Homo sapiens: one gene and its partners. The protein of the gene in region 4 interacts with the protein of the main gene of each other region in a pairwise test. Each region holds a gene or a part of one and is shown on either strand. Other genes may lie near its edges. The genes, in order: ZNF212, CNNM1, GNL1 and PTP4A1.

Region 1 (7,025 bases), on a different chromosome or scaffold from region 4:
AGTGAGACCCTGTCTCAAAAAAGAAAAAGAAAGAAAGAAGCTGTTTGAATTTTGGTGTATTTCTAAAGTTTTTTTTCATCTTTTAGTTTATTTTTTTTCAACAAAAGTGAAATTATAGCGTGTATGTTCTGTTACCTATGCTTTATGCTTAGCATATTCTCTGAGACTCCTGTATCAGTGTTCATTTTTAAACCTATTTTTATTTAATGTTTTGGACTATATGATAAAAGATGTCACTTACATCTTATCTTGCTTCCACATCCCTGCCAGACTTCATAGTTGATCATGTCACCCGTTTGAAAACTTTCAATGGCTCCCCACAATAAAGACAAAATTCCTTAGCAGGACCTACAAGACCTAATTCATTCATCTTTGCACTCTAGCAGCTGGGATGGTGAATAAATCCTTAAAAAATATTTACTGAAATGATGTGACTAAGTCTACTGACATTTTCCTTATAATTTTCACTTTAATGAGCTGTCTCTGACAGTAGGAAAATCACTGTCATAGAAGCTAAAATTACTGAAACCAACACTGGGGAAGTCTTCCCCAAGCTGTCCCCCTACTGTCTCCCTGCACGTTCACTTCAGTCCTAACCCCCTCTGCAAACTTCACTTTATTTGAATAAAGCACACACTTTATTCAAGGCTGCTTCTCTAACCACAGTGAGGCCACCAAGACCGAGACACTAGAGGAAATATCTCGGAAAGAACTGCTGGGGCCAAGGGTTGTGGTCCAGAGAACATGGGACAAAAGGAAACTGACTGGTGCAGAACTGAACATTTAAGTTTGGCCATGACCTACTCTAGTTACTCAAGTCAGTTAATTCATCATGGAACACATGAGACAAAAGCTTAAATACATCCTCCTGCAAGAGATTAAAAGAAAAGTTCAATGTAAAAGACAAATACAAGCGAAACAAAACAAAATATTAAACTGGATATATGCATGCCATCATGTTTGTTTTGCTTCTACTTTAAGTCTGTGAGTCTCCTCTTTCTGTGGCCCAGCATTCTGTGCTCAGTAGCACTTTTTCTAGACAGGAATGTAGGTGAGAATCTGTGCAAAGGAATAAGCCCCCTCCTCTTCCACATAGTAAGAGGTTGAAAAGAATGATTAAGCTAGTTTCTTCTTGTCTTCTGTTTTGAATTATCTAGCATGATGGGAACAATTCAAATGTTCACGAACCAGTCAATGGATGAAAAAATTGTGATCCATCCAGTGTTATGGGTTGAATTGTGTCTCCTCAAAATAATACAGTAAAACCCTAATCCTCAGTACCTCAGGATGTGATCTTACTTGGAAATAAGGTACTTCCAAGGGTAATCAGGTTAAAATGAGGTCATTAGGATGGGCCTTAATCCAATGACTGATGTCCTTAAAACAGAGGACCTTTAGACGCAGACACACACACACACAGGGAGAAGATGTCTACTATGGTTTGTCCTCACCAAAACCCATGTTGAAATTGTATTTCCAATGTGGCAGTGTCGGGAGGTGAAGTCTCGTGGGAGGTGTTTGGGTCATGAGGGCATATCCCTCATAAATAAATTAATGCGCTCCCACAGGGGTGAGCTGTCATTGGCAGGAATGGATTAGTTCCCACTACAGTGGGTTGTGAAACAGTCTGACTTCTTTGGTCTCTCTCTTGCCTCCTCTGTCACCATGTGATCTCTACACACACCTGCTGCCCTTCCATTTTCTGCCATGAGTTTAAGCAGCTTGAAGCCCTCACTAGACACAGCTGCCCAATCTTGAACTTTCCAGCCACCAGAATTGTGAGCCAACTAAACCTCTTTTCTTCATGAATTACCCAGCCTCATGTATTCTGTTACACCAATACATAATGGGCCATGTCAAGATTAAGGCAGAGACTGGACTTATGCTGCCACAAACCAAGAAAACACATGGGACCACCAGAAGCTAGGAGAGAAACACAAAACTCATAAGGAACCAACCCTGCAAACATCTTGATTTCAGACTCCTAACCTCCAGAACTGTGAGACAGAATTTCTGTTATTTAAGCTTCCCAGTTTGTTACACCAGCCCTAGGAAACAGACACACTATATAAGACACTTCATTATATACCGTATTATATATTTAGTGTATTTTTCCTATATAGCTTAGAAGACTACTAAGCCTGCTACTTAGTAGTAGACTACTACTTCGACTACTAAGTCTACTACTATGTAATAAAAAGGAACCAAAATCACTGACATGTTTAACAACATGCTAAGTGACGGGAATCAGACAAAGGTCAGGCACGGTGGCTCATACCTATAATCCCAACACTTTGGGAGGCTAAGATGGATCACTTGAGCCCAGGAGTTCAAGATCAGCCTGGGCAACAAAGCAAGACCCCCACCTCCACAATTTTTTTAAAATGAGCCAGACGTGGTGGCATGTGCCTATAGTCCCAGCTACTTGGGAGGCTGAGGATGGGAGGATCACTTGAGCCCTGGAGTTCAAGGTTGCAGTGAACCATGATCACACTACTGCACTCCAGCCTGAGTGACAAAGTAAGACCACTTAAAAAAAAAAAAAAGAAGGGCCGGGCATGGTGGCTCACACCTAAAATCCCAGCACTTTGGGAGGCCGAGGCGGGCGGATCACCTGAGGTTGGGAGTTCGAGACCAGCCTGACCAACATGGAGAAACCCCATCTCTACTAAAAATACAAAATGAGCCGGGCATGGTGGCGCATGCCTGTAATACCAGCTACTCGGGAGGCTGAGGCAGGAGAATCACTTAAACCTGAGAGGCGGAGGTTGCGGTGAACCGAGATCACACCATTGTACTCCAGCCTGGGCAACAAGAGCAAAACTCCAAAAAAAAAAAAAAAAAAAAAGAATTCAGACACAAAAGGCTACATTTGTGTTTCATTTACATGTTTGGAAAAAAGCAAACTATAGGGACAGAAATCAGATCAGTGGTTGCCAAGGGCTAGGGATAGGAGAAAAATATTGATTATAGGCCAGGCACAGTGGCTCACACCTATAACCCCAGCACTTTGGGAGGCCGAGGAGGGCGGATTGATCATGAGGTCAGGAGATCAAGACCATCCTGGCTAACATGGTGAAACCCCATCTCTACTAAAAATACAAAAACAAAATTAGCCAGGTGTGGTGGCAGGTGCCTGTAGTCCCAGCTACTTGGGAGGTTGAGGCGAGAGAATGGTGTGAACCCAGCAGGCGGAGCCTGCAGTGAGCTGAGATCACGTCACTGCACTCCAGCCTGGGCAACAGAATAAGACTCCGTCTCAAAAAAAAAAAAAAAGACTGATTATAAAGGGATATGAGGGAACTTTCTTGGATGATGGAAATATTCTCTATCTTGGTAATATGCTGGCTACACATTTGTCAAAATTTGTTGAACTATCTGCCTAAAGAGTAAATTTTACTGTATGTAAATGGTATCTCAATAAACACGTCTTAGAATGTCAAAGTAGGAGAAAATGCTAGCTGTAATAAAAGATAACATAAACAAAGTCTAAAAACAAGGAGAGAATATTTGTAAACAGAATATGAAGTGGAAAAAGGTCAAGAACCCCAAAATAAAACTGCAGATTGTAAATCATTCATGGAAGCGGAAATGCAGGCAGTCAATAAACAAATGAAAACACAACCACCTTACAATCAGGAATCCAAATATAACTAAGTGAAAGCACGTTCACCCATCAGACTGACAAACATGAAACAGACACAAAGAATAACATTCAGAGCTGACTATAATGTGGTAAACTGACTCTCATAACACTCCTGGAAGGAATGAAAAATACTACACACTCTTAGGGGAAGAAAAATTTCAAGTCATTAAAAACCCTTTTACCTAGCAATCCCACTTGGGGAATCTATGGCTGGGCACAGTGGCTCGAGTCTGTAATCCCAGCACTTCGGGAGGCTTGAGGCGGGAGGACAGCTTGAGCCCAGGAGTTCAAGAACAGCCAGGGCAAGATGGTGAAATCCCATCTCTACAAAAAGACAATAAAATTAGCCAGGCATGATGACAGGTGCCTATAGTTCCAGCCACTCAGGAAGCTGAGGTGGGAAGATCACTTGAGCCCAGGGGATTGAGGCTGCAGGAAGCCATGATCACACCACTTCCCTCCAGTGACAGAGAGAGATTCTGTCTCAAATAAATAAAGACACGGTCTCACTCTGTCACCCAGGCTGGAGGGCAGTGGCACGATTATACGTCCTGGTATTACAGGCATGAGTCACCCCACCCAACAGAAAAGTGACACATTTAGGATGAATTTCAATTCATAAACATAGTATGCAAATCCTTTTTTTTTTTTTTTTTCTGAGATGGAGTCTCTCGCTCTGTCGCCCAGGCTGCAGGCTGGAGTGCAGTGGCATGATCTCAGCTTACTGCAACCTCTGTCTCAGGTTCAAGTGATTCTCCTGCCTCAGCCTCCCAAGTAGCTGGGATTACAGGTGTGTGCCACCACTCCTGGTTAATTTTTCTGTATTTTTAGTAGGGACAGGGTTTCACCATGTTGCCCAGGCGGGTCTCAAACTCCTGACCTCAAATGATCCACCTGCCTCAGCCTCCCAAAGTGCTAGGATTATAGGCATGAGCCACCATGCCCAGCCTTTTGAGACTCCATTTTTAATATCTTTCAATGTTTTAACATTTTCCCTAGGTATCTATTCCAACCATCAACTCCTGTATGACAAATAATCCCCAAATTTAGTGGCTTAAGACATCATCATCTACTTTGCATGTGAATCTGCAGTTAAAGGAGGGTGGCACATGGATGGTTCGTCTCTGCTCCACTCTCTGTCAAGTGGGGCAAATCACAGGCAGCCAGGTGCTAGAATCCCTTGAGAAATCCCAAGCCACATGAAGAGGGTGCATGAAGTGTTCTGTTCAACGGCCTTACCTACAATCTCAGTCTACACACCAGCATCAACCAATAGACATGGGAATGCACACATTTTCATTCCCAATAGGTTTTTATTTTTGCCTCCTCTCTTTTGTTTTCATTTTGTCTCTACACTTTGATATTATATACTGATAGATATATGGATTAAAAAAATCATTTCTGGCCAGGTGCAGTGGCTCACGCCCATAATTCCAGCCCTTTGGGAGGCCAAGGTGGGCGGATCATGAGGTCAGGAGATCGCGACCATCCTGGCTAACATGGTGAAACCCCATCTCTACTAAAAATACAAAAGAATTAGCCGGGCGTGGTGACGGGCTCCTGCAGTCCCAGCCACTGGGGAGGCTGAGGCAGGAGAATGGCATGAACCCGGGAGGCGGAGCTTGCAGTGAGCCGAGATCGCACCACTGCACTCCAGTCTGGGCAACAGAGAGAGACTCTGTCTCAGAAAAAAAATAAAAATAAAAATAAAAATAATCATTTCTGTACCTGTGCTTCCAATATAATATCCACTAGTCACATGTGGCTGGTTAAATAAAATTAGCCGGGCACAGTGGCTCGTGCCTGTAACCCCAACCCTTTGGGAGGCCAAGACAGCCGGATCACTTGAGGTCAGGAGTTCAAGACCAGCCTGACCAACATGATGAAACCCTGTCTCTACTAAAAATACAAAATTAGCCGGGTGTGGTGGCACATGACTGTAATCCCAGATACTCAGGAGGCTGAGGCAGAAGAATCACTTGAAACTGGGAGGCAGAGGTTGCAAGGTTGCAGTGAGCCAAGATTGCACCACTCTACTCCAGCCTGGGTGACAGAGTGAGAGTCTGTCTCAAAATAAATAAATAAAATTTAAAACTCAGTTCCTCAATCATACTAGCTAACATTTCAAGTGCTCAAAAGCCACATGTGCCTAGTGGCCACTGTATTAAACAGTGCAGAGCAGAACATTTCTATCATCTTGGGAAGTTCTACTGGATGCACTACACCCTTATAAGTCTTTTCTATTTGATAAAATACTAAGGTTGTATTAAAATCTCCTATTATAACAGTGAATCTTTCTCGCAATTCTGTCAGTTTTGTTTTATATATTTTTAGGCTATGTAATTAGGTGCATACAGGTTTAGAAATTTTGTATCTAGCTGGTAAATTGAGTCTTTTACCATTACAAAAGTAGTAGGAGCCTTCTATCTCTAAAGATACTAAATATATTTGTCAACTTTATTTTCATTAGTATTTGCTTGGCATATTTTTTCATGACCTTTTATATTCAACTGTTTCTATATCCTTATCTTTTAGTTGTATCTCTCTCTCTCTCTCTTTTTTTTTTTTTTTTTTTTTTTTTTGAGACGGAGTCTCACTCTGTCACCCAGGCTGGAGTGCAGTGGCGCAATCTTGGCTCACTGCAACCTTTGCCTCCCAGGTTCAAGTGATTTTCCTGCCTCAGCAACCTCCGCCTCCTGGGTTCACGCCAGTCTCCTGCCTCAGCCTCCCAAGAAGCTGGGACTACAGGCACCCACCATCACATCTGGCTAATTTTTTGTATTTCTAGTAGAGACGGAATTTCACTGTGTTAGCCAGGATGGTCTCAATTTCCTGACCTCATGATCCACCCAACTTTGCCTCCCAAAGTGCTGGGATTACAGGCGTGAGCCACCACGCCCAGCCGGTTGTAACTCTTTTAAACCATCTAGTTGGATTTTTCCCCCATCCTGACAATCTATGCCTTTTAACTTGAACATTTCATTCATTTACATTTATTGTAATTGTTCATTAGCTTTGATTTATTTTTACCTTTTTTGTGCTATTTATCCCATCTTTCTTCTCTACTTTCTTGTCTTCTTTTACATTAATTTTTTCTTATTCCATTATCCCCCTTTCTGATCTGTAAGTTATACGACCAATTTCGAGTTGTTTAGCAAGTATCCTAGAAATTATGGGAAACATACATAGAAGGCCCTTTAACAAAGCCCTTTAAACACTTTAGTTCTGATCATCTCTTCCTCATATTTACATCAATGCCATCATGTATTTTAATTGTTTTTAACACAACAAGAAATTGTTACGTTTTATTAAGTCACTATTTGTTTAGATTTAACCATTTCCATGCATCATCACATCTTCTCATATTTTCAGACTTTCT
Region 2 (7,025 bases), on a different chromosome or scaffold from region 4:
CAGCCTTCAGATATAGCTTCCTAATGGCTAGCAGTACTCTCATTTAACTGCATTTTGTATAAATTTTTTGTCAAAAATTTAATGTCATGATAATTTGAGCCCGAGGCTGCAGTGAGCTATGACTGTGCCACTGAACTCTAGCCTGGGTAACAGAGCAAGACCCTGTCTCAAAAAAGAAAGAAAGAGAGAGAGAGGAAGGGAAGGAGGGAGGGAGGGAGGGAAGGGAAAATTCAATCTCACTACTTTAACATCATAAATAATCTTTAGAACTTTGAATACAAACAAATCTGGGGTCTTTTTCCTGCCACAATTTTTGAAATCATATTAAATATTAAAATGTAGCCTGGAAGGGGGGAAAAAGGTCTAAAAGCTACTTTCAGTCTCAGATTTGAGAGAACAGCCCTAGACTTTGTGTTGGTATGATGAGAAGGGAGAGAAATGTATATATGGCAGCTATTTTAGTCCATTTTCGGTTGCTGTCTCACCCTGTTCAGTCCATCTCGCCTTAATCCTTGCATTCATAGTTCCCACTGCAACTTGAGGTTCATCTATCCACTCTTAGAATTATGCTTACATTTTGTATATCTTACAGAAGTAGGGTCTTAGATCTGGGCATTGGGTGGCATAAACCACAGAAATTTATTTCCTCAAAGATCTGGGGGCTAGCAGTCCAAGATCAAGGTGTCTGGCAGGTTTGGTTCCTTCTGAGGCGTCTCTCCTTGGCTTGCAGTCACCACCTTCTAACTGTGTCCTGACATGGTATTTCCTCTGTATGCATGCATCCCTGGTGTCTCCTTGTGTGTCCAAATTTTCTCTTCTAACAAGGACACCAGTCAGATTGGATTAGAGCCCACCCTAATGGCCTCATTTTAACTCAGTCACCTCTTAAAACTGATAGTTAAGATACAGAGCAGTTAAGATAGTGTCTCATTGTCATGTGCTGGCAGAAGATGTTTTAAATGAAACTCCTGTGAACTCATTCATTCATTTGTTTAGGTTTGTTTGTTTGTTTGTTTGAGACAGAGTTTCACTCTGTCGCCCAGGCTGGAATGCAGTGGCGCCATCTTGGCTCACTACAAACTCTGTCTCCTGGGTTCAAGTGATTCTTCTGCCTCAGCCTCCCAAGTAGCTGTGATTACAGGAGTGCACCAACACGCCTGGCTAATTTTTGTATTTTTAGTAGAGACAGGGTTTCACCATGTTGGCCAAGCTGGTCTCGAACTCCCGACCTCAGGTGATCCACCTGCCTTGGCCTCCCAAAGTGCTGAGATTACAGGCATGAGCCACTGCACTTGGCCTCATTTAGTATTTTTTAAACATCTATACAGTTTTAGGCAACAAGGGAGACAGGAAGACTGTCCTCAGGAGGTTAGCAATATACAGGGCATAATGAGCAGTCTTTCGAAGCAGGAATTGTCATATCAACTCTTATATCCCCAGCACCTTACACACTGCCTTGTAAATAGTAAGCTGTTCCAAAAAGTTGATATTGATCTGAAATGAATCCCTGTGCAGAATTTCTAAACCTGGTCGAAAAAAGCTCCTTTAGTGTTCTATTAATAGCTACTTTGTATTTAGGTAGAGCACTAAAGAGAAGCAAGCCATTACAGAGAATACTATACCAAGGAAGATATTTCCACTTCCTTTCATAGCCTTGCTACTTCCTCAAAGTAAGGTCCGTGAAACAGCAGCATGAGTCTCACCTGGGAACTTATTAGAAATGCAGAATTTTATGCCTCACCCTAAATCCACTGAATGAAAATCTGCATTTTAGCAAGCTGCCAGGTGGCTCCTATGTAACATTAAAGTTTGAGAAGCATTGCCTTCAGAGACCCCTTATTAACAGTGTTTGGTAGATCTACTTAAGATAGAATATAAGACATAATGAACAAGGTGGATGTTCTCAGGCTGCAAGCCATATAACATAGTGGTCATTTTCTTTAGGAGTTATACATTTGCACCATAGGTTAGGAGGTGAAAGCTGGGTTGAACTGCTTTCCTTTACCTTTAAAAATAACGTTTTTGGCTGGGCGCAGTGGCTCACGCCTGTAATCCCAGCATTTTGGGAGGGCGAGGTGGGTGGATCACCTGAGGTCAGGAGTTCGTGACCAGCTTGGCCAACATGGTGAAACCCCATCTCTACTAAAAATACAAAAATTAGCCAGGTGTGGTGGCACACACCTGTAATCCCAGCTAATTGGGAGGCTGAGACAGGAGAATTGCTGAGACAGGAGGCGGAGGTTGCAGTGAGCTGAGATCGCACCACTGTACTCCAGCCTGGGTGACAGAGAAAGACTCTGTCTCAAAATAAATAAATAAATAAGAAAAAAATAATTTTTAAAGCTGGTCTTTAATAGCTCTTCCATTTTCCTTACTTCCTTGCTTCTCAAGTAACGTAACCACCAACAAATCCCTTCGAAGGTAGAAGAGGAAAATGACGATATTAATAGGAGCCACAGTTACCATTAATTGAGCACCAACAGTTCTTCCAGGCACCATGCCAGGCCCTTTACATACTCAGAACAACCCTCCTGGGTAGATGTCATTAACTACATTTTACAGATGAAGAAACTAAAGCTCGGATCAATAACATGACTTGTACAACTTTCCATAACTAATAACTGACTGAACTGTGATGTGAACTACATCTGTAGGACCCGAAAGCCTGTTCTTTCCCTGCTACACCTGTCTTATTCCTTCCTCCATCCTGGAATTCCTGCCACCCACAGGGTTCAAAGGTAGCCTTTTCACCTCTGATTGCTGCCCATGGCTGATTCACCTCCAGTTTCTGCAGGTTAGTAATGTAGCTTTATAATTACAGTAATTGCTAACATGCATATTGCACTTGATAAAACATTTCTATATACCTTCTCTTGTCCAATCTTAAACAACTCTGCAGTTACAGGTGATGATATGGGATTTTATCTTTTTACTTCTTATGAGTTGCAAGTCTTTAGAAGTGGGGAAGAGGAAAATGGTCTTTCACACTAGAGTGTGAGGTTTACAAAAGGGAACAATATTTCTCACCACTGGACTGTAAGTTCCTTGAGGACAGAGAATGAATCTTACTTATTTTGTATTCTCAGGACAAGTATAGTGACCGCCATGGCTAGGGGATGTATAACCATTTATTGAATAAATGGTTTTAAATACCTAACTTCTATATTTCTATGTTTGAGTGAGGTGAACCCTAAGTACGGAATAATTAATGTTGTTCCTTGATCCCAGCAAATCTCTCCTCTTCCTCTTCATGGGCCTCTGTCCCCAGTAAGTGGCACCACTTGTCCCTTTAGTCTCCCAGACTAGAAAGCTTTCCTTTGCATTCACCTCATCCTATTAATCATTGTCGTCTGCACAGGCTGTCATTAGAAAATAGCATAGACTGGTGACCTAAACAACAGAAATTTATTTTCTCGCAATTCAAGGCTTTGACATCCAAGATCAAGGTTTTGGCCAACTCAGTTTCTGGTGAGGACGTTCTTCCTGGCTTGCATGTGGGTGCCTTCTCTCCATGGCCTTTCCTCAGTGCCTGTCCACAGACAGCAAGAGGCTCTGGTCCTCTCTTCTTAGAAAGACATCAATCCTGTTGGATTAGGGCCCACCCTTATGCCATCATTTAATCTTAACTACTATACTTCCTTAGAGGCCTCTCTGGGTGTCGTTAGGGCTTCAACATATGAATTTTGTGGGAAGACAAACATTCAGTCCATAACAATCACCAAAGCTGGCCAAATAATTGGATGCCAATATTGCATCCAACTGCAGTCATGTCATTTTGGTCAATGATGGACTGCATGTATGATGGTGATCCCATAAGATTACATTGGAGCTGGAAAATTCCTGTCACCTAGTGATGTCCTAGCAGTCATAACACCTAACATCGTCCTAAGGCAACACATTACCTTTACTATGTTTAGATACGCAAATACTTACCATTGTGTTACAATTACCTACAGTATTTGGCACAGTAACATGCTCTACAGGTTTGTAGCCTAGGAGCAATAGATTATAACATATAGCCTATGTGTGTAGTACACTATATCCTCTAGGTTTTGTGTGACTACATTCTATGATGTTCACACAATCATGAAATTGCCTAGCAATGAATTTCTCAGAGAGTGTCTCCATAGTTAAGCAGTGCATGACGATTTCTTAAATCTGTACATAATTTAATCCACTATTTGTTCCACTTAGGTTATTCACTGATTTTATTCAACAAATAGTTGTGTTGGCACAGTGGAGAACATCATCAACATAGTCCTTGTCTCTATAGAGCTTCACTCTAATACAGGAAACAGAAATTAAACGAACAGGATAGTGATTAAGAACATAAGATTTGGCCAGGCGTGGTAGCTCACTCCTGTAATCCGAGCACTTTGGGAGGCCGAGACAGGTGGATCATTTGAGGTCAGGAGTTAGAGACCAGCCTGGCCAACACAGTGAAACCCCGTCTCTACTAAAAATACAAAAATTAGCCGGGCAGTAATGGTGCACACCTGTAATTCCAGTTACTCAGGAGGCTGAGGCAGGGAGGTTGCAGTAAGCCAAGATCATGCCACTGAACTCCAGTGGCAACAGAATGAGACCCTGTCTCAAAAAAAGAACATAAGACTTACTAGAATGCCTGGGTTGATACTGGCCCTGGGCAAATTACTTAACTGTTTATGTCTGTTTCATTAGCTGTAAAATGAAAATAATACTAATATTTACTCATAAGATTGTGTGAAATATTAAGACTATCGCATTATGCTTACTTACTACCTGTCATGTAAGTACTAAGTAGATGTTAGCTATGATTATTAAATATAAACACAAGTCTATTACTCATTTATGCAAATGCCTCCTAAGAAGTTACACTTTTTCACATTTTTGTCTCCCTCAAATTCGTTCTCTCTAGTGCCACTAAAATAATCTCCAGTAATGTCACTGCTTAAAACCCTTCAGCAGCTCCCCGCTGCCTACGGGAGAGAGGCTAAGCTGGTAAGGCAGCCAGCAATGCACTCATGACCTGCTTCTTGCCCTCCCCTCCAGCCTCATCGCTCACCACTCCCTGCCACAGCTTTACCCTCCAGCAATGCTGAACTCTGTGGTGCACTGTGCTATTCTTGCCTTTGTCCCTTTATTCACATTGCACTTCTGTCAGGAATATGCTTTGCCTGACTAATTCATTGCCAGCTCTTTGACACTCAGCTCAGGGGCCTCCTCCTCTGGGAGACTTCTCCTGTAAACCCCAAAATACAAAAATAGATTTTTTGGCCAGCTTCATTGTTTTATGTGCATATCTCAATCATTGAACTAACAAGCTGTACTACCAGTGTTTGTTTATAAGTGCCTCCCACCCATATAATGAGCATCTCCAGGGCAAAACTGTCTTATCTGTCTTTGTAGCTCCAGCAGCTAACGATGCATATGACACATAGTAAATTTTCAATGAATGTTTGTTTAAGGACTGAATGGATGACTTAAGGAGTTAAACTTTAATATAATGGAAGAGATCTGCAGAGCACTAGAAAATGAATTAAATCATTTTGGACTATGCAGCAGAACAAATCAAACTTATAAGTTTGTTAGTGTTAGAAGAAAAGTGTTGCATCTATTGTTTCTCAGCTTCTTTAGGTACATCTATTAATATTTATTACAACAATTTCTTTTCACATGTAAAGCACTGTGCTAAGAGTTAGGGGTATGAGATAAAATCTCTGTTCCCAAAGAGCCTAAAGCATAGTGGATGAATAGCACTTCCCTTTGCAAAGCTAGAAGGCAAGCTGGACACTCACCTTTCCCATGACTTCCAGTGACCTTGAATTTACAAGTCATGTCTCAGTATATAAGTACAGGATATGGGTAAGACAGACCTTGGTACATAAAGCATTAAAATGAAAGTGCTATACTAGAAATGCAAAAATGCAATGGGAACATGGAGGATACAATAACTATGACTAGGTGGCATTTTTTTTTTTTTTTTTTGAGATGGAGTCTCACTTTGTCGCCCAGGCTGGAGTGCAGTGGTGTGATCTCGCCTCCCAGGTTCAAGCGATTCTCCTGCCTCAGCCTCCCAAGTAGCTGGGACTACAGGCATGTGCCACCATGCCCGGCTAAATTTTTGTATTTTAGTAGAGACGAGGTTTCACCGTGTTGCCCGGGGTGGTCTCGAACTCCTGAGCTCAGGCAATCCGCCAACCTCGGCCTCCCAAAGTGCTAGGATTACAGGTGTGAGCCATTGCACCCAGTCATATTTTGCTTTTATAAATTTTTTACTGAAGTTTATGTTTCTATAATTTATACAGAAAAAAATTTAAATATAGAATAGTAGAAAAAAGAAGTATGAAAATCATATGAGGATAATCATCCCACTATCCTGAAATAGTAACTCAATATTTTGTCATATTAAAAATATATTGCACATAATAACAATCTTAATGAAATTCTTAAAAAGAAAACAAAAGGAAAAGCCCATTGTCCTGCCATCAAGCACAAATCAAATGTCCCATTCTAATCTTAAGAGTGATTTTCTTATAGGGTGGTATTTTTGCTATAGTTTCCTCAGGGTTGAGTGCTATAATTTGGGAAGACTAATTTTAAAAATGGAGCCGTAGAGATTTATCATACTTCTTAAATTTACTACTCTATTATTGGATTGCTTTTAGGAGACACTGAGTTCTGTATAGACAACAGGGGAAAGGAATAAAGCTTTGTTCTGAAGTCAAAGCTTCTGAGTAATACAGCACTGACTGACATTTAACTCAATTAAACAATTCAGCTTTGCTGGGCTAGTAACACCATCTTTGCAAACAAAAAAGCACAACCCACGTATGCTAGGCTGCTCCACCTGTACACTAGCATGGCTGTAACACAGCCTACTGCACAATCCATACTCAGTCTTTGCTTATTCATTGATTCATTCAGTAAACATTTTTTGAATTCCTGCTTTGGGCCAGGCATTACACTAGACTCTGGGAATACAGTGGTGAGCTAGGCAGACATTATGGAGCTAAAAATATCCTCTTCCATCTTTGGTCTTCCTG
Region 3 (7,880 bases), about 33 Mb from region 4:
TGATGGACATGTGGGTGGTATCCAGTTTGGGGCTATAACGAGAAATGCCACTATAAACATTTTTATACATGTTGTTACACATACGTATGCATTTCTGTTGAATATATACGTAGTAGAGGTATTACTGGCTTATAAAGTATATGTTATGCTCAAGTTTCATACATAATGCCAAACTTTTTTTTCACAGTGGTTATACCAATTTGCACTCTCACCAGCAGTTGTCCTATAGCCTTGACAACACTTGGAATTGTTAGGTTTTTAAATTTTGCCATGGTGAGTGTGAAAAGTGGTGGTTATTTTTTTGTTTGGTTATTATTATTTATTTAATGAGAGATTGGGTCTTGCCACACTGCCCAGGCTGGTCTTGAACTCTTGGGCTCAAGTGATCCTCCCACCTTGGTCTCCTAAAGTGCTGGGATTACAGGCATGAATCATCATGCCTTGTTTTGTTCGGTTTTTATTGTGGTAAAAAACACATAAAAATTACCATCTTAACTATTTTTAAGTGTACAGTTCAGTAGTGTTACATATATTCATATTGATGTGAAACAGATCTCCAAGTTTTTGTTTGTTTTTTGAGATGGAGTCTCGCTCTGTCGCCCAGGCTGGAGTGCAGTGGCGCGATCTTGGCTCACTGCAACCTCTGCCTCCTGGGTTCAAGTGATTCTCCTGCCTCAGCCTCCCAAGTAGCTGGGATTACAGGCGCCCACCACCACGCCTGGCTAATTTTTGTATTTTTAGTAGAGATGGAGTTTTACCATATTGGCCAGGCTGGTCTTGAATTCCTGATCTCATGATCCGCCCGACTTGGCCTCCCAAAGTGCTGGGATTACAGGCACGAGCCACCATGCCCGACCTCCAAAAGTTTTTTATCTTGCAAAACTGAAACTCTGTACCCATTAAACAAAACTCCCCTTCCTCCAGCTTCCTTCCCCCAGCCTCTGGTAACCATCATTCTACTGTTTCTTTGAAGTTGACTTTATTTTTATTTTTTGTTTTGACAATCTTGCTCTGTCATCCAGGCTGGAGTGCAGTGGCGTGATCTCGACTCACTGCAACCTCTGCCTCCCAGGTTCAAGCAATTCTCATGCCTCAGCTACCCGAGTAGCTGGGATTACAGGTGTGCACCACCATGCCCAGCTAATTTTTCTATTTTTAGTAGAGACAGGGTTTTGCCATATTGGCCAGGCTGTTCTCGAACTCCTGACCTCAAGTGATCTGCCTGCCTTGGCCTCCCAAAGTGCTGGGATTACAGGCGTGAAGCACCATGCCCAGCCCCTGAATTTGACTTTAGACACCTCAGATAAGTGGAATAATACACTATGTCTTTACTTAACATAAAGTCCTCAAAGTTCATCCATGTTGTAGTATGTGACAGCACTTTCTTCCTTCATAAGGCTGAATAATATTCCATTGTATGTACACGCCACATTTATCCTTCCATCAGTGGACATGTGGGTTGCTTCCACCTCTTTGTTATTGTGAATACTGCTGCTATGAACATGAGTCTGCAAATATCTCAAGACCCTGCTTTCCATTTTTTTTTTTTTGATATATACCTGGAAGCAGGAGTTCTGGGGTAATTCTATTTTTAATTTTTTTGTCATCTGGTAGTTCTATTTTTAATTAAGAGGAACCTCTTCATATTGTTTTCTATAGTAGTTTCACCATTTTATAATCCCAGCAGCAGTACACAAGAGTTCTAATTTCAAAGTGGTATATTTTTATCTTGCATTTACTTGACAATTAATGATATTGAGTACTTGTTCATTTAGACCTTTAGTTCATTTAGATCTCCATTTTAATAAGGTGTCCTGTGTTTTTGTCAATTTTTCAAATGGCTTGTCTGGAAGAGTTCTTTATATATTATAGATACAGGATCTTTATTTGTTATATTTATTGCAAATATCTTCTATTGTATGGCTTCCTGTTAATTTCTTAATGGTATTATTTGGCAAGTTTGTATTTTGTTTTTTCTTTTTTTTGAGACAGTCTCACTCTGTCCCCCAGGCTGGAGTGCAGTGGTGCAATCTCAGCTCACTGCAACCTCCGCCTTCCAGGTTCAAGCGATTCTCCTGTCTCAGCCTCCTCAGTAGCTGGGATTACAGGCACACACCACCATGCCCGGCTAATTTTTGTATTTTTAGTAGAGACAGGGGTTTCACCATGTTGGTCAGGCTGGTCTTGAACTGCTGACCTCGTGATTCGCCCGCCTCGGCCTCCCAAAGTGCTGGGATTACAGGCGTGAGCCACTGTACCCAGCCGCAAATTTATATTTTCTAACGGAGTTCAATTTATCAATCTTTCCTTTATGGTTAGTGTGTATACGTGCATTTCTTGTCTGTTTAAGAACTCTTAGCTACTCTTAGAAAATACATTTACTTTCTAGAATAATTATTCTCTTACCTTTTATACTTAGATCTACAGTCCATTTGAAATAGATCTTTGTATATGATTATGAGTGCAAGGTGAAATTCCATTTTTTTCACATGAATATCCAATTGATCCAATATCATTTATTGAAAAGACCAACTTTTCAGTTCCATCTTCATCATAAATGAAGTGTCCACACATGTATGGGCCTGTTATTGGACTCTTCGGGACATAAGTCCTATTGACTTATGTCTATCATTGTTTCCAAACTGCATCGTTGTAACTATTGTAGCTTTATAGTAAGTCTTTTTTTCTTCTTGTATTTAGAGACAGGATCTCACTATGTTGCCCAGAGTGGCCTCAAAAACTCCTGGGCTCAAAGGATCCTCGCACCTCAGCCTCCTGAGTAACTGGGACTACAGGCGTGTGCCACCATGCCCAGCTTACAAATCTTGATATTCATAGTAAGCCCTCCCACTTCAAGATTGTCTTGATAGTCGCCTTGATATTTTGCATTTCCCTATAATAATGTGTATTTCCACAAAAACATTATGGGTGTTCTGACTTGGAATGCATGAAATCTGTTTATCAATTTGGGAAGAAGTGACATTTTTACAACATTGAGTTTTTAAATCAGCAAATATACAACTTCTCTCCATTCATTTAGGGATGGAATCCCTGATCTTTTATTTTTAAGTCCTTCCTGGGTTTTATCCCCTCCCTTGCTGTCTTCTCTACGACCTAATACAAGGATCAGGGCCCCTTCCTCCTCACCTGACTTAGGGTCGCCAGGTTTTCCATTGGCCATGGGGGGAGGGCCCAGAAGGCTGGGTGGTCCTAAGAGCAGACATGAAAATATGGTCATCAGAATGGATTAAAGGACTGATGATTCTGTTCTTAGGTGTTTTTCTTGTATTACTTATTTCTTAATTCAACCAGTAAAGTCAGGTATATTTTCAGCAGTCTTGGGAGTTCTCACCCCATCTATCTGCCCTTTTTTCTGCAAAGCTGTTTCAGGGTTTGCAAAAAGTAGATATTCAATCAAAGGGGATAATGCAGGAAAAGATACTGACAACTTTTTTTCTTCACCGTACCGTCGCTATCCAAAACAACCTAAGTGTCTCCAGACATGAACCAATCCCTCACCTTAACTGCTGGCCAGAGGACTAGTTTAGAGAAAGCTGCACCTGTACCTTTTCAGTCAAAGTCTGGATACAAACTGTCATCCCAGTCATCGCAATCTGCAACATCTCTACTACCCCTTTCCCCTACTGTTCTGCGGCTGCGCAAAAGAGCTCTTTATTCTCTCCACCCCCGCCTTCTCCAGAAAGGTCTGGGGCCGTATTGAGGTTGATGGTTCCAGTAAGAGAACTCCTGGTTCAAGGCTCCATTTGGGAGAGCCCCACTTCCATCCCTCCCCAGCGCGTGCGCCCTTCCTCCTTCCGTTACAGCCCCCTCCTTCGCACCTTATTAGCCCCTAGCCCCTTGCCCGGACGGGCTTGACAGGCATGTGCACATCCCTCCCAGACCCCTCACCGATGGGACTCCCATCCTCCTCATCTCCAGTCTCTTCCCGCTCGGGCAGCGGGGGCTGCTGCTGTGTCGGTGGCTGGTGATGATTCTGCTTCTTTCGTTTCGGCATCGTGTCTGCGGCAATGGCTGCAGCGGGATTTGGAGGGTAGTGAGGAAGGGGCACGCGGGGATTCTGTTTCCGCTTCCGGGGGGTCGGTGGGCAGCAATGCTGAGGCTCCCGCCATTCCACTTCCGGAAGGTTGCGGAGAACATCTGCGGCGGCCGCATTCCGGAGCCAACTGCCTCCCTCCGTCTCTGCCAGGCATGGCGGCAACCTCACACCTTCCCTTTGCTGCGTTTCTATAAATGCTTTGAAAAAATTACTCTTTTCTTCCCTCGCTGGAAAACACCACAACCAGCTCCTCAGAGTGTGTCACAGAGTCAACAGGCTCTCGGGCCAGAGGGCCTGAGAAGAGGACTGTCGCACCGTAAGATCGCCACATCCGGTCCTCGGTTACTATGGTAACAGCTGCAGGCACAACTTCGTGCCCTTTGACCTCCCCCCAAAAGTCCTTGTCCCGCTTGGGTTTCCCTTCTCGCCCGCTTTTGCACTTATGATCTGTAAACCTGCTCCTTATCATCGTTCCCACAAGGAATTTGGGTCCCAACAGGTCGGCACCCAGGACTCTCAGACCGCCGCCCTCCCCTAAAGACCTCTGACCGTGCCCCCGGTGTAGTCCAGCAACCTGGACGCAGTCTCGGCTTTCCACTAAGGTCAAGCCCGGGGCTTTGTAGTATAGCCTCAGCGTGTCCACGCCCCCTCTCCCCTAGGTAGTAGGCCCCGCCCTCCGCTCCGCCGCCCCCTCCAGGTGAGTGGTAGGTTCTCCCGGGAGCGCAAGGTAGTGATGACACGCGCCCCCCCTCCTCCGAACGCGAGTTGGTAGCGTCCGTGACGGAGTTAGCCTGGTCCTCCCACGCGCGCCTCCTTCCTCGCCGCCGGGGCGCCCTCTCGGTGCCACTGGCTCTCACGTGCCAGTAGCCCACCCCGCATCATCCTCTCGCCTCGCTCCTGGAGGGAAGTGACTATATCTCCCCCGTCCGCCTTCCATCGCCGCCGCGGCGGTAATTCTGTCGGGCCCGCCCGCTGACGTCACCTGCTAGCCCCGCCTCCTCTAGGGTCCCGGGCCCCTGCGGCGGGGGCTGCCCCGGGGGGCAGTCAGTTGAGGCGGCGGGAGCTCGGCGGAGGGCGGGCCAGGTGACTGGTCCGGGCCATGCCGAGGAAGAAGCCATTCAGCGTGAAGCAGAAGAAGAAGCAGTTGCAGGACAAACGGGAGCGGAAGAGAGGTCAGTGCGGGAGCGGGAGGAGGGGGCGGGGCTCGGGCTTCCGCACATCTGGAAGGAGGGGTGTGCCCGCTGCACCTCTGGGGATCGTGGGAGGGGGTCGTGGGACCGCGTCAACCCTCGCGGCCTATCGCGGAGGGGATCCCCCACCCCCCCTACATCTGGAAGGGGTGGGGAAGGATGGAGAGTTGGGGGAGGGGAATCCCTCCAGCTAGCACGGGGCGCCGTCCCCACTGCTCCCTGAAGGAGTGACTCCCCCCACGCACATCCGGGAGGGTCCCAAATAGGGTGTCTGGGAGGACTGAACATCGGAAGAAGTTGAGTGGGATGAAAGGGAGTCAGGCCGATGGGGGAGAGGGTCTTATGGCCCCTGAGAGCTGGCCAGCACTGGCGTCACCGGCCCCTCCCCGCAGGGCTTCAAGATGGGCTGCGCTCCAGTTCCAACAGCCGCAGCGGGAGCCGGGAGCGGCGAGAGGAACAGACCGACACCTCGGACGGGGAGTCTGTGACCCATCATATCCGCAGGCTTAACCAGCAGCCTTCTCAGGGGCTGGGTCCACGAGGCTACGACCCAAATCGGTGAGGGTGGGAGGGGGCGCTGGTCCCGGCTTTCCCGCCTACCCGGAAGTCAGAGCTTTGGGGGAAAGCGGGCTGCTACTGGTGAAGACGGTGGGCCTGGGATGCCACAGTTCTCCGCTAGCCACTCGGCTCCCCACAGCGGGCCACAGTCTTCCTTTCCAGAGGGGCTGGAGAGAGTTGGGCTTTTAGAAGGAGAAGGCTGAGTATTGCCTGAAAGAAGGACTTGGGGGAAGTCTGACTTGAGAGAGGAGACTTGAACGACTCTGGAGAGAATGGTTTGCGAAGTTGATTGTACAAGAGGGGAGAAAATAGGAGTTTGTGGCCACAGGATTGCTCTGGATGTCTCGGTCCCTGTTCCCTTAGATACCGACTGCATTTTGAGAGAGACAGCAGGGAGGAGGTAGAGAGGAGAAAGAGAGCAGCCCGGGAGCAAGTTCTACAGCCGGTCAGTGCTGAGTTGTTGGAGCTGGACATCCGGGAGGTGTATCAGCCTGGCTCAGGTGAGTGAGAGCAAGACAGGCATTGGGCTGGGGAAGGAGTTTGGAAAGGTAAAAGCCGACTGTGAGGAAGGAGGGGTCTGGGATGTACTCTTGAATCCTGAAGATTTCCTCACACTTGGACTTTTTCCTGAATTCCCAGTTCTGGACTTTCCTCGACGTCCTCCTTGGAGCTATGAGATGTCCAAGGAGCAACTAATGAGCCAAGAGGAACGGAGCTTCCAAGACTATCTTGGGAAGATTCATGGGGCTTACTCCTCTGAGAAACTCAGCTACTTTGAGCACAATCTGGAGGTGACAGTGTACTCTAGGGACAGGAGTGGGGCATAGTGACCTATGGTCAAATTGGTTTGGGATCAGGCTGGAGAGGGACTCTGTTTTCAGTTTCTCTTCCTGATCCTGTCTTTTTAGACATGGAGGCAGCTGTGGCGGGTGTTAGAGATGTCTGACATCGTCCTGCTTATCACTGATATCCGACATCCAGTGAGTACTAGGGATAAGGGTGGGCAAGGAGGAGGGAGAAAGGTTTTTCAGGGGCAAAGGTCAGAGGCAAGAGTTGGGAGACAGAGAGGTATCTATCTTCCTGTCTTTCTAATCTCTACCTAGTGCTGATGTCCGCAGTTAGGAACTCAGTTTTTTATTCTCTTATAGCCTGTCATTCCTCCCTTGGCCAGCTCACTCTTCTCTTCAAAACAGCCATGTCCTGTCCTTTAGCTCATCACAGACCAATAGAAAATCCAAGTGTTGGAGCTCCAGGGATTCTATGAATGCAGCTGGGGACTTCCTCCTGCCCAGCCCAAAGATGCCCTTTCTTCCTTATCTCATTTCTCTAGCACTGCCACATCAGTTGCTACAGAACCCACCTGGAATGCTAGAGTAGTAGTTAAGGCTGTAGACTGCTGCTGGACTGCCCTGTGTGAATCCTAGCTCTGCAACTTCACTCTTGTCCTCCAGTGGGAGAAAGGGAGGTCTGTGAGGACCATTTAGGTTGGAGGTCCTTAATAATATGTACACACACATACTCACACGTACATCATGTGCACATCAATATACACAGGCATGTTTGCACACATGTTCACAGTCACATTAACACACAAACATGCACACATGTGCACGTACTTGCATGCATGCATATATGCACGTGTACACACTTACATAGTTGTGCACACACAAAAAAGCAGACTAATTTCTACCCTAACCCCCATCCCTGTTTCCGATCCCAGCCTTTACCTCAGTGTGCTAAGTGATGCTGTTTCCTTGTCTTGTTTTGGGTTCATTTCCATCTCTAATCATGACCTATAGGAAGCCCTCTGAGACTCAGAAGTATTACTAACCCCTGTTTTGTCTTTGTTTTTCAGTTTGTCTGGTTTATAGTTTTTAGCCCAGAGTCTGCTACCACCAGGGCCTTGTCTCTGAGCTACACCTGCTGAGTGGGGAGCTGGAGGCAGAGAACTCTGGGTTGACTTTCACTGCTCCATCCTCTTATCAACTCTGTCCTAGGTTGTGAATTTCCCGCCAGCACTTTATGAGTATGTGACTGGAGAACTTGGACTGGCCCTGGTGCTGGTTTTGAACAAG
Region 4 (7,025 bases):
TTGATATTGGCATAAAAATGGTTTAGTTCTTAAGGGGGAACTTAGAGAAAATATAAATACATTCATATTTGTTTATATTTATTGGTTACAGTAGTTACCTTGCTTTTGAGACCTGCCACTTCCACCTTCAACATCCCTTTGTCCGCCTTCTCTGAGTTGGATTTCAGTTTTGAGTTGTATATGTGAAATTTTGGTTTTAAAATACAAAAGAACATTATTAAAATTATGAATATTTTCTTTACAGTTATAAATGAGAGTTGTTTCCTTTTTAGATTCATAAGCATACATTCTTATGATATTTCACATAACAAGTTGATTTTCAGAGACTCATTTTCCTCGTCTTCAGTTTAATGGGAATGATAACAGATTGTTAAGGATAAAGTGAGATTCTAAATATAGGACTTAAATCAGTCTAAGAAAAGGATATAAAAGCATAAAGTTGGAAAAGAACTTAGATGTTTCAGTTTATGAGTTAAGTAAATTATGCAAGACTAATAACTTCAGAGTTATCTGGAGTTTGTATTAATGTGTAAAAATGTTTTTGTTAGTTGGAAAAATCAACATAAAGTGTATGTAATTACAATGTAAAGAAAACAACTATCGAAAGGGATAATTATTAGAATCATATAATTATATATTATATATAGATAGTATATATACAGAGAATATAACTAGATAGAATATATATGAATATATATATGAATTTCACAAAAATGTAACAATGGGTTTGGTTTTTTTTTCTGAGGAATCTTGGTAATAGATCATGGATTTCAGTTTAATCTATCTGACTGCTTGTTTTATGCTGATTGATTTAATCTGTACTCACCCCTTGAGTTTTGCAATTCAAGTAAAAGTCGATGAAGCGGCTCAGGCCCTGCTTTAGAAAAATAGTTGTGTACTTAAATAGTGTAAAACCCTAATGTATTTCTTTTGAATTGGAAAATAACTTATTCTCTCTTTCTGTCTTTTTCTTTTAAACAGCAATTCTGTGGTGTTCTTGGTCACACATTTATGGAGTTTCTGAAGGGCAGTGGAGATTACTGCCAGGCACAGCACGACCTCTATGCAGACAAGTGAACTGTAGAAACTGATTACTGCTCCACCAAGAAGCCCCCATAAGAGTGGTTATCCTGGACACAGAAGTGTTGAATTGAAATCCACAGAGCATTTTACAAGAGTTCTGACCTGGATGGGGTAAACCTCAGTGCACTTCTTTTCTGTTGGCCTCAGTATTACTGGATTGAAGAATTGCTGCTTCTTGTTAGGAGGTTCATTTCACTTATCATTACTTACAACTTCATACTCAAAGCACTGAGAATTTCAAGTGGAGTATATTGAAGTAGACTTCAGTTTCTTTGCATCATTTCTGTATTCAATTTTTTTAATTATTTCATAACCCTATTGAGTGTTTTTTAACTAAATTAACATGGCTCGAATGAACCGCCCAGCTCCTGTGGAAGTCACATACAAGAACATGAGATTTCTTATTACACACAATCCAACCAATGCGACCTTAAACAAATTTATAGAGGTAAGATTTGATATGTTTTAGTAGCTTAAATTGATTGCAATATAATAGTGGGACTTATAGCTAACAAAATAAAAACTACTTTGGAAAAAATGAGATGATATACCTACAATTCCAGTTCCCAGAAATAAATGTCAATGTCTTCTATAGGTTAGAGGTATATTTGTACATTTTGAGAAGGGCATGTGCTTGAGTTAATAGTTATTGTACCTGAGTTTGCTTGAATTGGTATGTGGACAGTAAAACAGTATAGCTCTTACTTATCTTGTAAGAAATTTACATGGGAAAGGTTGCCATTTATGGATTTTTTATATATCTGCTTAACCTAATGACTAATGCCATAAACCAGTTGGTTTTTCTTGAACCCCATCTGATGCTTAGAATCCAATTTTCAACTACAAATTCTGTTCCTTCCTAATGGTAGCTATGTAGCCAAAACTCTACCTGCCTCTTTTTACTAGGAGAAAGGAATTGAATGCTGAATAATATATCGGGATGTGCACATGTTTTATTTTATAAATACCTACAGTTGTTAAGAAATAGCAAATAGGCCTCTCAGAACATAATGGAAATACTTTTTTTTCCTTTTTTTGAGATGGAGTCTCGTTCTGTCACCCAGGCTGGAGTGCAGTGGCATGATCTCAGCCCACTGCAACCTCTGCCTCCCGGGTTCAAGCAATTCTCCTGCCTCAGCCTCCCAAGTAGCTGAGACTACAGGCGTACGCCACCTTGCCCAGCTAATTTTTGTATTTTTAGATGTAGTTTCACCATATTGGCCAGGCTGGTCTCGAACTCCTGACCTCAGGTGAGCCACCACGCCTGGCTGGGAAATACTTTAATGGTACTTTAATTTTTATTACTATATATTATATATACACTAATATATACTATATAGTGTATATAATAGTATATTATATTAGTAATATGTAATTAGTAATAATGCATTTTGAAGCCTGTAGTTTTAAATGGTATGTGGGCTTTTTTACTGTAGTTAAGACTTCATTCAATGTAAATCAGTAAAGTTTAAGGAGTGAGTATAATTGAGTGAAGTCAGATTACCCGATTAGTTATAAATAATGCCTTTAGTTACATTTACCTTTGTCTGCATTGCTGCTAGCCCCTTTTGGTTAATGTTTCATCCCAATCCGGTATTACCATGACTGTAAACAACTTCAGTGTATGAAGGGGGCACACAATTTAAACAAAAGAAGGAAAACTTTTCCAGTTTATTAAAAATATGTATGGTATTTAATATTCACTTTTCTTTTTATATTCTAGCATTGTCACTTAAAACAAAATTTGCTTTTGTGTTAAACATAAATGGATTCTAGCATTCTTTAAATGATCTTCTGTTAACCAGCATACTTACTGATCAGAGATGATCAGAATATAAAATGTTGAGTTATAGTGATGTGGTTAAACATTAAGATTTTTTTAATGTACGTTTTATCCAGGAACTTAAGAAGTATGGAGTTACCACAATAGTAAGAGTATGTGAAGCAACTTATGACACTACTCTTGTGGAGAAAGAAGGTATCCATGTTCTTGTAAGTATTTAACAGTTCTTATGGGTTTATGGTGCTGTGCTACAAAAGTTTATTCAAATAGTAAATTCAAATAAATATCTATTTAAGTCATAAATAGACCTCAAAAAGCTAAAAACAAATATTATATTATTGTGCAGAATCTTAATTTCTAAATAAAGGTGAAAAGCTAAGCAAGGATTTGAAGTTGTGAAACATTTTTGTAAAGATTGAGCATTTAGTCACATTTGGTAGACAACAGGGTTTAATAAGATTTGATTAAACATTAAAATGAGAATGCTTTTGAAAACATTTCCATGTTAGAAATTTAGAATTATTACTACAGTGTTTATATTAATGATCTAAAATGTTTAAATATTCTTCTGACTTAGGATTGGCCTTTTGATGATGGTGCACCACCATCCAACCAGATTGTTGATGACTGGTTAAGTCTTGTGAAAATTAAGTTTCGTGAAGAACCTGGTTGTTGTATTGCTGTTCATTGCGTTGCAGGCCTTGGGAGGTAAATGAATTTATCAATTTGATTCTAGGTAAAAATCTATTGATAATGAAAATACAGAAACTTGAAAAATTCTTATAATTTTTTAATATAAAGTCAACATTTGTCATAGGTATTACTTAAATAGGAAGGGTGGTAGATAATACTTCTGAGTTGGGGAATGTTTGGAGAAATAAATTTACAAAGATCTGATTTTGAAAAAACTATTTATCAAAATTCTTACCTCACCAGAGCTCCAGTACTTGTTGCCCTAGCATTAATTGAAGGTGGAATGAAATACGAAGATGCAGTACAATTCATAAGACAGTAAGTAATGGATTCTCTTTTCATTTGTACTCTCTTTCATTTCCTTGTTGAGTGTCAGTGAGTTTAATAGTCTAATAGCCCATTTAATCATTATGATTATTTTTTGAGATAGTATTAAAACCAGGAAATCAAGATCTTACATTCTTTTTTGCATTTCATGCAGTTGCTCATATTACTAAGATTCTAATCCAACAAGAGTTTTTGAATTATTGTTTTGCTTTAAATACTTGATTGAATATGTTGGTTATTTTGTATTTTTATTGAGGTATAATTAAGATACATTTAAAGATACAATAAAATGCACAGGTCTCCAAAGGAGACCAGTTGACAATAACAGCCAAATTAACCATCCAATACAACACATAGAATATTTTGAGTGCTGTAGAACATGCCTTTGTGGCTTTTGTAGTCATCTTCCCTGCTACCAGAGGCAACTTCTGACTTCACTATAAATTAGTTTTGTCTTTTCGTGGACTTACGTGTAAATGGATTTGTGAGTCGACTGTTGTAACCAATACTCAAACGAAGATATAAAGAAAATTAACTTTTTATGATTTTTTCCATTTACACTGATGTGCCTGTTCATATTCCTTTCTGCATCAGGTCACAGCCTAATTAATCAAAAGATAAATTGCCACAAGAGAGGTGATGGTTGTCTATAAGACACTAAATATTACTGTAGGGGGCTTTTGCCTTGTTTCATTTTTTTTTTTTTTTCCTCCCAGAAAGCGGCGTGGAGCTTTTAACAGCAAGCAACTTCTGTATTTGGAGAAGTATCGTCCTAAAATGCGGCTGCGTTTCAAAGATTCCAACGGTCATAGAAACAACTGTTGCATTCAATAAAATTGGGGTGCCTAATGCTACTGGAAGTGGAACTTGAGATAGGGCCTAATTTGTTATACATATTAGCCAACATGTTGGCTTAGTAAGTCTAATGAAGCTTCCATAGGAGTATTGAAAGGCAGTTTTACCAGGCCTCAAGCTAGACAGATTTGGCAACCTCTGTATTTGGGTTACAGTCAACCTATTTGGATACTTGGCAAAAGATTCTTGCTGTCAGCATATAAAATGTGCTTGTCATTTGTATCAATTGACCTTTCCCCAAATCATGCAGTATTGAGTTATGACTTGTTAAATCTATTCCCATGCCAGAATCTTATCAATACATAAGAAATTTAGGAAGATTAGGTGCCAAAATACCCAGCACAATACTTGTATATTTTTAGTACCATACAGAAGTAAAATCCCAGGAACTATGAACACTAGACCTTATGTGGTTTATTCCTTCAATCATTTCAAACATTGAAAGTAGGGCCTACATGGTTATTTGCCTGCTCACTTTATGTTTACATCTCCCACATTCATACCAATATACGTCAGGTTTGCTTAACCATTGATTTTTTTTTTTTTTTACCAAGTCTTACAGTGATTATTTTACGTGTTTCCATGTATCTCACTTTGTGCTGTATTAAAAAAACCTCCATTTTGAAAATCTACGTTGTACAGAAGCACATGTCTTTAATGTCTTCAGACAAAAAAGCCTTACATTAATTTAATGTTTGCACTCTGAGGTGCAACTTAACAGGGAGGGCCTGAGAAAAGAATGGGAGGGGGCTATTAATTATTTTTAGCAAAATGTTGCCTTTGTCTTGTGCAAACATGTAGAATATGCTCTTTAATTTAGTAAAATATTTTTTTAAAAGGTAGAGATGCTTTGTTATTGTAATCATAAACTTCCTGAAATTCTTGTAATTTTTTTCCCATACTTATCAGAAGTGTGTTTACCAACTTATTTTTGTTTGAAAGTGTGATTTTTTTTTTCCTTCCCAACCTCTCTTGCAAAAAAAGAAATGGGTTTCTGCTAATGAATTGAGCAGACATCTAATATTTTATATGCCTTTTGAGCTGTGTAACTTAATATTTGGATACTTGACAATTTGTTTTATTATGTAATTGATAAAATGGTGATGTGTATTAATGTTAGTTCAACCATATATTTATACTGTCTGGGGATGTGTGGTTATAGTTCTGTGGGAGAAATAATTTTGTCAGTGTTCACCAGCTTGTAAAAACTTAGTGCGAGAGCTGAAACATCTAAATAAATAATGACATGCATTTATCATCATTGAGATTGGTTTGCTTAAAATTAACTTATTTTGTAGAAGACAAAATGAATTGCACTTCACTTAATGTGTGTCCTCATCTTTTTACAAATAAATGAAGGATTATAAATGATGTCAGCATTTTAGTAAACTTTTAGACAAAATTTGTTAGGGTCATTCATGAAAACTTTAATACTAAAAGCACTTTCCATTATATACTTTTTAAAGGTCTAGATAATTTTGAACCAATTTATTATTGTGTACTGAGGAGAAATAATGTATAGTAGAGGACAGCCTTGGTTTGTAAAGCTCAGTTCCACTAGTTCATGGTTTTGTGCAACTTCTGAGCCTCAGTTTTCTCCTTTGCAAATTAATAATTACATACCTTTATAGATTTTGAAATTAATTTAAATATTAGTATTTGGTACATGAAGGCTTAATGTTAAGTTTCCTTTAATGATCCACAATAATCCCTTTGATCACGTTAATCTAAATCTAGATGTCTTTGTCTAATTTTTTTTGAATAGCAGTTATAAATGTAAAGGACTCAAAGTTTAAGTAAAAAGTGATACTCCACCTTGTGTTTCAAAGAATTTAGTTCCACCTCTTCATACCAGTTTAACACTTAATATATTTCATTGGATTTTAGACAGGGCAAAAGGAAGAACAGGGGCCTCTGGAGGCCCTTGGTTATTTAAATCTTGGATTATTTGTGATAGTAATCACAAATTTTTGGCTAATTTTTAACCTGAGGTTTTGTTTTTTTTTTAAAGGAAATGCAGCCTAGTCTTGAGAACATAATTTTATATAATCAATTACTAAATGTTAAACTATTACCACACAGCCCATAAAACAGCATTTGCGTTTATTGAGAGAGAGGATGTGCCATCATGATTAATGAAAACTATCTTTTGAGTTTGAAAAGAAATTAATTTGCAGTGTTTGGATTGTATATATGGTGCTAAAAATAAATTAATTTACTTTATAAACCTTATCTGTACATTATACGATGTGATGAAATTTGCTTTTTATCCAAATATTTTGTA

What was found.
Region 1: the proteins of PTP4A1 (region 4) and ZNF212 interact in a two-hybrid assay, tested with the Homo sapiens proteins (one study listed by BioGRID and IntAct).
Region 2: the proteins of PTP4A1 (region 4) and CNNM1 interact in binary tests that used the Homo sapiens proteins (3 or more experiments, as listed by UniProt).
Region 3: the proteins of PTP4A1 (region 4) and GNL1 interact in a two-hybrid assay, tested with the Homo sapiens proteins (one study listed by BioGRID and IntAct).

What each region holds. Positions count from the first base shown.
Region 1 is NC_000007.14:149,242,637-149,249,661, reverse strand, and holds part of ZNF212 (zinc finger protein 212), read right to left. Parts: intron 1-7,025.
Region 2 is NC_000010.11:99,332,347-99,339,371, forward strand, and holds part of CNNM1 (metal transporter CNNM1), read left to right. Parts: intron 1-7,025. UniProt on the Homo sapiens protein: Probable metal transporter.
Region 3 is NC_000006.12:30,553,480-30,561,359, reverse strand, and holds the start of GNL1 (guanine nucleotide-binding protein-like 1), read left to right. Parts: upstream 1-4,870; 5' UTR 4,871-5,156; coding exon 5,157-5,229; intron 5,230-5,639; coding exon 5,640-5,805; intron 5,806-6,168; coding exon 6,169-6,305; intron 6,306-6,444; coding exon 6,445-6,596; intron 6,597-6,713; coding exon 6,714-6,785; intron 6,786-7,802; coding exon 7,803-7,880. Other genes in the region: PRR3 (proline-rich protein 3), read right to left, coding at 3,148-3,210, 3,910-4,015. UniProt on the Homo sapiens protein: Possible regulatory or functional link with the histocompatibility cluster.
Region 4 is NC_000006.12:63,575,455-63,582,479, forward strand, and holds part of PTP4A1 (protein tyrosine phosphatase type IVA 1), read left to right. Parts: intron 1-981; coding exon of another isoform or gene 982-1,077; 5' UTR 1,078-1,426; coding exon 1,427-1,531; exon of another isoform or gene 1,532-2,982; coding exon 2,983-3,075; exon of another isoform or gene 3,076-3,443; coding exon 3,444-3,574; exon of another isoform or gene 3,575-3,802; coding exon 3,803-3,877; exon of another isoform or gene 3,878-4,559; coding exon of another isoform or gene 4,560-4,602; coding exon 4,603-4,720; coding exon of another isoform or gene 4,721-4,757; 3' UTR 4,758-7,025. Other genes in the region: uncharacterized LOC128125822, read left to right, coding at 982-1,077. UniProt on the Homo sapiens protein: Protein tyrosine phosphatase which stimulates progression from G1 into S phase during mitosis. May play a role in the development and maintenance of differentiating epithelial tissues.